Linked DNA regions of Homo sapiens: region 2 is linked to region 1. Evidence: fine-mapped expression QTL. A gene starts in region 1. The other region holds a variant in brackets. All regions are shown on one strand. Distances are from middle to middle. Region 1 holds the start of ENPP6 (ectonucleotide pyrophosphatase/phosphodiesterase 6). Region 2 overlaps ENPP6 (ectonucleotide pyrophosphatase/phosphodiesterase 6).

What was found. PIP is the estimated chance that this variant, and not a neighbour inherited with it, causes the effect. A credible set is the group of variants that fine-mapping cannot tell apart.
Region 2: its variant is the best candidate, but not a certain one, in a credible set for the expression of ENPP6 in tibial nerve (GTEx, PIP 0.77).

The regions. Positions count from the first base shown.
Region 1 is chr4:184,215,235-184,220,610 of GRCh38, reverse strand. It overlaps ENPP6 (ectonucleotide pyrophosphatase/phosphodiesterase 6), which reads left to right and starts at 2,738. Exons shown (of 8, transcript NM_153343.4): 1 at 2,738-3,032. The coding sequence starts at 2,792.
Region 2 is chr4:184,187,629-184,193,004 of GRCh38, reverse strand. The region is part of intron 1 of ENPP6 (ectonucleotide pyrophosphatase/phosphodiesterase 6); the gene reads left to right. Among named protein-coding and RNA genes, the nearest start is that of ENPP6, 28 kb to the left of the region's middle. The variant G/A (reference allele first, on the strand shown) is at 2,578.

The DNA of each region.
Region 1 (5,376 bases):
CTAGCACATGTGATGTTCAGTGTCTAGGAGGCCCATCAACCCATCAGGCTGCATCTGCCTTTTCCCCTCCCCTCCCCTCCCTTCTCCTTCCCTTCCCTTCCCTCTCCTCCCTTTCCCTTCCCTTCTCTTCTCTTCTTCCCTTCCCTCCCTTTCCCTTCTTCCCATCCCTCCCTTTCCCTTCTTCCCATCCCTCCCTTTCCCTTCTTCCCATCTCTTCTCTTCCCTTCTTCCCTTTTCTTCCCTTCTTCCCTTTTTCCTTTCCCTTCCCTTCCCTCCCCTCCCTTCCATTCCCCTCACCTTCCCTTTCCTTCTCTTCTTCCCTTCTTCCCTTCCTTTCCCTTCCCTTCCCTTCCCTCCCCTCCCCTCCCTTCCCCGCCCCTTTCCTTCCCTTCTCTTCTTCGCTTTTCTTCCCTTCTTCTCTTCCCTTCCCTTCTTCCCTTCTATTCTTTTTTTTCCTTCCCTTCCCCTTCCCCTTTCCCTTTCCTTTCCCTTCTTTCCCTCCCTTCCCTTCCCCTCCCCTTCCCTTCCCTTCCCTTCCCTTCTTCGCTTTTCTTCCCTTCTTCTCTTCCTTTCCCTTCTTCCCTTCTATTCTTTTTTCCTCCTTCCCTTCCCCTTCCCCTTACCCTTTCCCTTCCCTTCCTTTCCCTCCCTTCCCTTCCCCTCCCCTTCCCTTCCCTTCCCTTCTTCGCTTTTCTTCCCTTTTTCTCTTCCTTTCCCTTCTTCCCTTCTATTCTTTTTTTCCTCCTTCCCTTCCCCTTTCCCTTTCCCTTCCCTTCCTTTCCCTCCCTTCCCTTTCCTCCCCTTCCTTCCCCTCCCCTTTCCTTCCCTTCCTCCCTTTTCTTCCTTTCTTCTCTTCCCTTCTGTTCTCTTTCCTTCTTCCCTTTTCTTCCCTTCCCTTTCTTTCTCTTTCTCCCTTCCTTCGTTTACTTTTCTTTCTTTCCTTTTTCTTTCTTTCTTCCTTCCTTTCCTCTTTCTTCTCTCTTTTCTTTTTCTCTGTTTATAGCAACAATACCACACAGCTCAAAGAAAAAAGAATAACATTGTTTTCAAAGTAACAACCTTTTAGGATAAACTCCCCTTTTCCTTATTTTTTAATAAGAAAAAAATTTAAATTTAATTATAAAAAGCATTACCTCTTATTGGAAAAAAGAATTCTGATCCTTGGCCAAGTCCCCTGAGAGGGGAGTGGTAATTTGGCCAATGTGTTTCTCTTTTGCAGCATAATTTAAAAAGTGACATGGTGATCCTGTGTTTGGGCTTGACTCAAATACAACAGAAAAAGAGAAGGAGAAAAGACACAAGCAGAGGGCAGAGGTGGAAGAGGGATTTTGGGGTTGACTGAGAGTGGCTGGTGTGGCTGGTGTCTATCTTCCTTCCCTGGAAAGTTTGCCCAGAGCCTGCAAGTTTCCTCAGGAGACAAGCAATGTTATAATGCGAATAACATCTAACATTTGTTCAACACTTGCTATGGACCATGCATGTTTTATGTCTTTTTTTTTTTGAGGCAGGGCCTCACTCTGTTGCCCAGCCTGGAGTGCAGTGATACAATCACAGCTTACTGCAGATATGACCACCTGTGCTCACACAATCCTCCCACCTCAGCCTCCTGTGTAGCTGGGACCAGGCACGTGCCGCCAGGCCCAGCTAATTTTTTAATTTTTTATAGAGATGGGGTCTTGCTGTGTTGCCCAGGCTGGTCTCAAGCTCCTGGCCTCAAGCAATCCTTCCACCTTGGCCTCCCAAAGTGGGCCACTGCACTCAGCCATGTTTTATAAGCCTTCACATGAATTGTGTTGTTTAATTTTATGTAGCATGACGGAGCCACTCTAGGGAACCCCTGGACTCTGGGTACTTTGTGCTAACTCTGTCTGCTCCCCAGCTCACATCTGCCTCCCTGTCACTAACCTCCTCCTATTTTCCACTCCGCCTAGTCTTCTCGGTCCCAAAGCCTGCATGGTAATTTCTAGCTCTGCTTTTCCATCTCAAGCTCTCAATCTCCAGCTCTCTATTTCATTTCCATCCTCCTGGGGCAATGCTGCTTCAGACCATTCTGCCAGTAATGATTTCCCATTGTCCAACTCTGGAAGCTTCTCATTGGCTCTAGGGCTCTTCTACGAACCACCTCCTCCTATGGGCACCAGCAGCTAAATCACATTTGAAAAATAAAATAATAACAAATAATAACACTGCATATAAAAACATAAGTGGCCAAGACATAGACAAATAACTTTTTTAAGTGCTGTGTCTACAGAGACACAGCTGGGAAGTTTACAAATGGGCCCACCGAAACGTATTGTTTCCTGTTTATGCACTGAGTCCAGAGGTTTGCGTTACTAAATTCTAAGTGAAAAAGAGTTTAAATGAGGCCATGATGTGGGATAACAGCAAATTAAAATCTTGCCCTTTTCCTTGGTTCCTCCCTTTGGTTAGCTCAACTGCAAAGTTAGTGTTGACTTTGTCATCTTCTAAAATTCCACCTCTGTGGGTGCTTGTATTTCTGGAACGTTCACCAAAAATAATAAGTTTGAACTCTCTCCCCTGGTGTTAATTCTGGGTTGTTTGGAACCCAGTTTATCTGAAGGAGTCGGTCTCTGGACTTTCTAGTAAAGGGTGAGCATAGATGTGTGGAAAAGGGGGTGCTGTTCCTTTAAATTCTGCAAGTGAACTTGACTCAGGAAGGCCAGCGGCTCAAGGTCCAGCCCCTGGAAGAGAGAATAGCTACAGATTCTCCATCCTCAGTCTTTGCAAGGCGACAGCTGTGCCAGCCGGGCTCTGGCAGGCTCCTGGCAGCATGGCAGTGAAGCTTGGGACCCTCCTGCTGGCCCTTGCCCTGGGCCTGGCCCAGCCAGCCTCTGCCCGCCGGAAGCTGCTGGTGTTTCTGCTGGATGGTTTTCGCTCAGACTACATCAGTGATGAGGCGCTGGAGTCATTGCCTGGTTTCAAAGAGATTGTGAGCAGGGGAGTAAAAGTGGATTACTTGACTCCAGACTTCCCTAGTCTCTCGTATCCCAATTATTATACCCTAATGACTGGTGAGTACCATGTCCTCTTCTGGGCAGGGAGGGGAGGGCTGGCATCCAGCAGGGAACAGTGAGCTCCTGGCATTGGAGTCTTATTTAAATGCTCTGGATTCTCTAGTCCTTTGGGACATCAAAGGTAGATAAAAAAAATCTGTGTTCTTGGCTGAGAAGACTTTTGTTTTCGTGGCGGTATTGTTTCCCAAAAGTTATCCCAAGGACCTGTTTTGGATTCTCAGTGCGGAGGACAGAGAACTATAGCAGTACATGATATTTGACGATATTAAAAGTGGTCGTTTATTTTAGAAAGAGAAATTCTAATGAGGCTCATATTTTCTAAGTTCAAGTCTGCAAAAGCAACAGGTGTCCGTGCATGTGTCCCAAACTCCTTCTGTCCCTTTTCTCTGTGGTCATGTCATCCTGGCACCCTGTGGGCTTGTTTCTCAGTGTGTTGGACTGTGAAAGTACCTGTGGGGTCCTCAGAGGGGAGTGGTGCTCCCGGATTACTTGGGGAAGGGGGGATGTTTAGGTCATATCCTTCCCTGTGACTTAGCAATGCCACCTTCCCCTTCTTTTGCCTTTTTGGCCAGGTAAAATGATACGGAGAAGAAAAAGCTTGTGTCGTTCAGGTTCCCCATTTGTGATTTGCAGCATCTACAAAAGACCAACCAGCAAAAACTCCACAAAACAAACAAAAACCTCGGCTAACCCAGACTGCCTGGGCTTGGGATAGCTGATTTTCCTAAGGACGGCCTTCATCTGAAATTGCCAGGACTCCAAACGCGACTGCATGAACCTGAGCCTCTATCCGTGCGATAATAGAATGTGCAGCCCTCTCTCTGCTCACAGAGTTGGATTCCCAGTTTCTGGTTTGTTTTTCAGCTATAACCTTTGTAAAGGCAGCGAGAGGCTCTCAGAAAGAATTTAGCAAACTATCCAGGGAGGCTGCTAAGAATGCACTGTTATTGCTGGTTATGCGGGACTCAGCTATGCACTCTGAGCACAGAGAGAGCTCTGCTAATTATGTTAACAGAAAGAAAATGAGATCTCTGATATCTCATGGACCTCCACAGAACACTAAAGCCAAAAGAGTCTAAAACAGACATTTATATCTCTGACTTTGTGCATAGATACTATATACACATGTACGGAAAAATGCCATAAACTGATGCCCCAAACTGAAGGGGAGAGATACTTCGGAGAAATAAAAATGAGGGCATGAGAGAGAGAAAAAAATCAGACTGCACACAAGCAAGGAAGTTATGTATTTGTTTTTTATTTCCCCCAGCAGACAAAAAAACAGTCTCTAAGATAAACAGAATTAACAAAATTCTCTGGCCCTCCCCTGGCATGTGTCTCCCCTTGCAGGGAAGCAGTTTGCAGGCTGCCGGCTCTCACATAGACGTGATTGTGTGGACAGCCGACTCCAGCTCTGTGCAGCGGCTTCACACACACAGCCCACCCCCACTCCAGCTGTCTTTCAGAGCCTTGCCAGGGGACCCAATTCATAAACTGCCACGCCACGTGCAGCTTCTGCAATCTTAGTGGAAAATGAACAAAATCCATCTTAGAAAGGACTCAAGTAAGTAAAAGGACCATTACAGACTCCACAGAGACACTAAGCCAATGACATGGCCTTTTGTTTGTCAGATCCACACTCCTGATATTGGCACAAGGAATAATTTGCACACAGCCTCCGTCATGCTGAGACACACCTTCTTTTCCGGCTGTGGGTGTTTTCCCTTGTGCTGTCCTGAGAGAAGGGCCCCTTCCTTTATGGGCAGCACAGGTCCCGTGAGTGTCTGACAAAGATCTCACCCTTGCTTTCAAACTGAGGCTGGCCCGAGGAAGCCACAGGTCTCCATATGTGTTAAGTCTCTGTATTTTCAGATGGCCAAATGTATTCACTGATGTGGAAGTCTGCTTGGTCTATATGTTTCATAGAAGCTACCCTGCACAAGGGAGGGATCTAGCAAGGCTCATGTTTCTGTACAAATGTCCTTGGGTATGATTTGTCTTGTACCTACTGGGCAGACTTGCAGACTTGAAGCAGAATTCGCAGGCTGGGAAATGCCAGGCCATGAACCTGGTATCACCTCCACTGTCTTGGAACTGACTCAGAGTTAAATTTAGACTATTTTCCCCAATACCCATACTTATTTTTCCACCTGATGCTGAAAACCTCCTCTTTTACTCATATAAAGAAGGATATAGCCATTGGGAATTGTAGCTAAACATATGGTTTGAGCATTTGAGCATTTTATGAACCAACAAAATTGCTATGCTAGATCTTTTTGGAAGCAAAAGATATGCTGTTTTAGGGTTCCTCAGCATTCACAAGAGAGGCTAAGCTCTCACT
Region 2 (5,376 bases), 28 kb after region 1:
ACAACCTCACCAACACTTGTTATTATCTTTTTAAAATTAGAGCCACTCTGATAAAAGAGCCATTATTGTCTTTTTTATCAAAGCCATTCCAGGGTTATGAAGTGGCATTTCATGGTTGTTTTATTTGCATTTCCCTAAAAACTAATGATGTTGAGCATTTTCTTTTCATGTGCTTGTGGACTGTGTGATAATTTCTTTGGAGAAATGTTTATACAAATCCCTTTACTCATTTTAAAAATTAGATTGTCATTTTATTTTTAGTTGTAGGAGTTCTTTCTATATGCTAGATATAAATTCCTTATGGGATATATGATTGGCATGTATTTTTCTTCCAGGCTGTGAGTTGTCTTTTCACTTTCTTCATGGGATGTCTTGCTGTACAAAAGCATTTATTGTTGATGAAGTCCTATTTATCAACTTTTCCTTTTACGACTTGTACTTTTTGTGTCATAACTACAAAATAATTGCCTAACCCAACATCGTGATGATTTACTCCTATGTTTTCTTATAAGACAAAGAAAATTTCTAGCTCTTACATTTAAGTTTGTGACCCCTTTTGAATTAATGTTTATATACAGTGTGAGGTAGTTGTCCCCGCACTATTTGTGAAAAAGACTATTCCTTTTCCATTGACTATTTCTGACAGCTTTGTCAAAAATCAATTGATCATAAATATTAGAGATTATTCTTGGGCTCTCAATTTTATTCCAATAATCTCTTGATGTTTAGGTGTATCCTTATGGTGAGATCAGACTATCATGATTGCCACGCTTTGTAGAAAGTTTCAAAATCAGTATACATAAATCCTTTAATTTTGTTCTTTTTAAGATTGTTTTGGCTATTCCAAGTCACTTGTACTTTCATATTAAATTTGGGAAGAACATGTCAACTTTTGCCAAAGCCAGCTGGAATTTGGATAAGGATTGTGTTGAATCTGTAGTCCAACTTAGGTAGTATTGCCATCTTAACAATACTAAGTCTTCTGATCCATGAATATGGGCTGTCTTTCCATGTATTTGGGTTGTTGCAGTTTCCTTCAGCAATGCTTTGTAGCTTTCAGCGTACATTTGGTACTTCTTTTGCTAAATATTGCTAAATGTTTTATTTTTTTTGACGTTAATGTGAATGGAATTATCTTCAGAATTTTATTTTTGCAGTATATAAACTGTAATTATCTTCCTACCTTACTGAATTTGTTTATTAGTTAAAAGTTTTTTGTGTATTCCTGAGGATTTTCTGCATACAAGAATATACAAGATCATATTTTCTGCAGATAAAGGCAGTTACTTCTTCCTTTCTAATCTTGATGCCTTCAATTGATCTTTACAGTCACGTTAGGAGTTATGTACAGGCATTTTACAGATGAGAGAACTTTCATCTAGAGAAGTTAAGTGCCTTGCCTGAGGTCAACTAGTCAGGAAGTGAGTGGATCAGGACCAGAACAGAGGGCTTCTGCTTCCCCCTCCATCGCTCTGCGTTCTCAACACACTGCCTCCAGTTGGCAGAGTCAGGATCTGAGAAGACAATGGATGGCCTATCTCTGTAGCACTCCTATTGTCTTCCTTTATTACAAGTAGCCGGATTCAGTCAAGCAGGGAGCAGAACGTACATTTCCCAAATGTCTACCGTATTTTGTGCTATGCTCAGTGCTAGGTACGTTCAAACACTATTCCAATTAATCCTCATAAAACCCTATAAAGTAGTCACAATTGTTCCCATTTTACAAATGAGGAAACCAAGGCTCTGAGATATTAAATTACTTGTTCAAGATTACAGGGCCCATAAATGGAAGAACTATGAGTACAAAATCCTGTGCTCCCCACAACATCATGCTGCCTCTTCCTTCTGACTTCTAAGGAAGCAGCTCTCAGGGCCGCCATCCTGCATAGGCATCTACGTGTCTCTCCCTTAGACAGTGATCTTGTAGCTGCATATGCACGTGGCATACGCCTGCACACATAGACACCCATAGTACATGAGCCACTGCCTTTCCAGGCTTCCTTCAGACTAAGCAACCTCCTGGGTAACTATTTTTTAAACCCTCCTTTGTGTGTCTCAATGGACAATGTGAACAATAAGCGCTTCTGGGGTTGAGCATAAAAGAGAGGATTCAACATCAGACACTTAGCTACTTATCTCAAATGGTCAAGGCTGCACAGTTGTGAAAAATGGCTTAAACAGGCCTCTTTTGATAAGTCACATCTGGGATACTGCCCCAGACCACCAAGATGCAGCTCTGGACAAGTTGCTTCTGATTATACTTGGTTATGGGGACCTGGGAGGGCATGGTGGTCCCAATGAGGGCAGGGTCTGACTCACCCTACATCCCACTCAATGTGTCTCATGCTCCCTGACACTTAGTAAGCACTCTATAAATGCCTCCTTGTATATGTTTTAAAGTTTCTTGAAGCTGCTGTATCCTAAATAGTTAGCCAGCTTTCCTTTTTAGCTGTTCTCTTCCCCATCTCATTTCCACTCCAAACAGAAAAGAAATTCCTGCTGCCAATCTATCAAGGGTGATATGTTTAGTCTTAGAGCAGATGAAACATCCAAATGAAAATGAGGGAGATCAGCTCA[G/A]ACATATCTCCCCGATTCTCTCTGCTCTCTTCTCCCCAGTGACAGTCCACACACAAACCAGGATAAGTTCTAGAAGCACAAAGCAGAAATGGAAGGAATTAAGTATTTTGCAAACTCTGTCAAATATTGTGAGGGGCAAGAAGGCACCATACTTAAACTCTATGGTTTACCTTTTCACTAAATTCCAGATCGGTGAGTAATCCAGTACTCTGGTGGTTTAAACAACTTCTTTTGTATTACCCAAGAGATATTAGGTTTGAGAGTTCAAGCCACTTATAACAGAGAGTCTGGAAAATTTCTCAGAGACGGCGGTTCCCTGAGGCGACATGGTGTGTGGTAGGTTTTCTATTTTAGCACCCCTGCTTCCAGGTGGTTTCATGGTCAGCAAGAGAATATGATTTTTAATAACATGAAATAAAAAGGCAATGCTTCTGCCAAAATGAGATTACCTTGTATTTTACTCAGCCATATTTTATATTTTCTCAGTTCTTTGCCAAATCCAACCACTTGTCTCCTCACACGAGTTCCCTTCCTTTTCATGCTCACATGCTGATCCTGGGCTCTGGCTGGCTCGCTCCTCTCCATCTCTTGGAGATATTCATGGGAGGAGAGTCAGGATGGACCAGAAGTGGGAGACACGGGTTCTACTCCGGGCTGTGGTGAGATCTAAACCTTGTGGCTTCAGACAAAGTCTCCTTGGGTTCAAGTTGCTTTTCTTTAAAAATGAGGACATTAAGGACTCCACGGAGTTTATTTGAACATTCCTGCAGGGTCCTCTCTTTCTTCTGCCCTTCTGGCCTCCTCTGGTCTGTTTCCTCATGAGGCTTCCTGACTTTGTCCGTGGAAAGGCAGGACTGTCATTGGTCATGAGCCCCGTTCACTGCCAGTGCTGCGGACTCAAACCGGAGCTTCAGCATTGCTTAGCACCGGAAGCCTGTCCATGCTTACCTTTACTTTTTAAAGCGTGAATTTAGTCTTTCTATACCCCTTTCCCTAGATGAGACTCAAAGTTATGATTTAAAAAGAGGGAAAGTGGCCTGATTTGAGGTAGGATTTGTGGGGTTAGAAATCTAGGCCAGGAATTTCTGTTGAAAATCACATCTTTCACTACCAGTTTCCCTGAGGGACAAAGTCTAATTCTTTTTGGGAACTATCTAATGGACACCATCCCCTCTGGTTTCAACACAGCACCCCTGACTCAGGAAACTGACAGGACTTCCTTTCCTTCCATGGCCAGGAAAGGAAGGCGGCTGAGAGGAGAAATCCCCTGGCATATACATGAGGAACTATTTATTATATCAACTCCAATCCACTTTCCCAGCACGGCCCAGCTCTCTTAGTGTGCAGAGCCACTCGGCTCCAAGCTGCAGCCCCAAAGCACTTGACAGACTTGAATGGTCACCCTGGTGGGTCACAGGTGGAAAGTCCAGGAAATTACATTTTCAAAGAATGGCAAATGCATCCACTTGCTTAATCACCTTATCTGTCATTTTGCTTCCTAGGAATCTTTCTAGATCTATTCAGGTTCAAGTCTAAGTGTTAATAGGGCCAGGGTTTGACTTCTTCATGGAAATCAGTACCTCCTCCGTCACATAAAATGCAAAGCTGGTCCTACCAGTAGGCCCAGGGGATTAACAATCAGTCTCTCATGTGTGAGCGTGAGACATCTTTATCTTGAATGAAGCCTCCCACATTTAATTGGCAATACATTTTCCTGAATCTTTTCTCAGAAGACTTGCTTCTCTCTCCAGCTAAACTGTTCATAAATCTGTAGCCCTCTGGAGCAATGTGGCATCGTCTCCCCACGTGGCTTCTGAACCAGCTTTCCCTCTCACGTGAGATGCCTGTGTGTGGTCTCATGGAGCTGATTCCTAGCAGCCATATGCAAACACAGCGTGGCAAGACTGTGACACAGCTTCAGGACAGAAGCTTTGAGTCGTGTGCCAACCCTTGACTCAAGCAGAGCGTGGGACCCCAGATCGTCAATTTGGGGGGATGGGGGTGAAAATGGCAGTTGGTGAAGAAATTACCTTCTTTGTTTGGAACAAAAACCTAGGACAATATTTTCTTTGGTTGAAGGAATTGGGTTAACAACATACATTGTAGGTCTTGGAATATACCCCACAGACGCCAACCTCCGTTGATGTTTTTCATAAAGAGAAACGACTGGGAAAGGCTTCAGGCACAACGGAAACTGACAGGACTTCTAGAATTGAAACATAAACATAAGGATGGAAACAAAACACCCCTGGGTTTGTTCAACCCATGGGCCATGTTATACTCTGTCCTGGAATGGTCTTCTGTAAGAGCATGCTACCATAAAGGTAACACACAGAAGCTGACTCCAAGAGGCCTGTGCTTCCATACATCATCTATCGTGACTCTAGCATCCAGTCATAAACCTTATTTTAATTAAAGAATGTATGCTCCAAGAGCAGGACTTGGTCTTGTTCTGCGCTGTATCCCCAGCTCCTGGACAGTCTGGTTTATTCTTCATTCATTCATTCTTCATTCAACAAAATATTTTCAGAGCTTGCTATGTGTAAATAATAGGTGTCTATTCATTCATTTATTCAAGAAGTATCTCTCACCTTCTATGGAGCCAGAGATACTCTTCTAGGCCCTGGAGATACAAATGAACAAAACAGGGCAAAGTTTCTACCCTCCTGAAATTTACATTCTTGTGAAATGTTGCAGACAAATAACACATATATAAACAATGTCAGGTGGTAATAAATTCTATGGAAAAAGTTAGACGAGGCACCAAGAATGACCACAGTGCCATTTTACCTAGGGTGG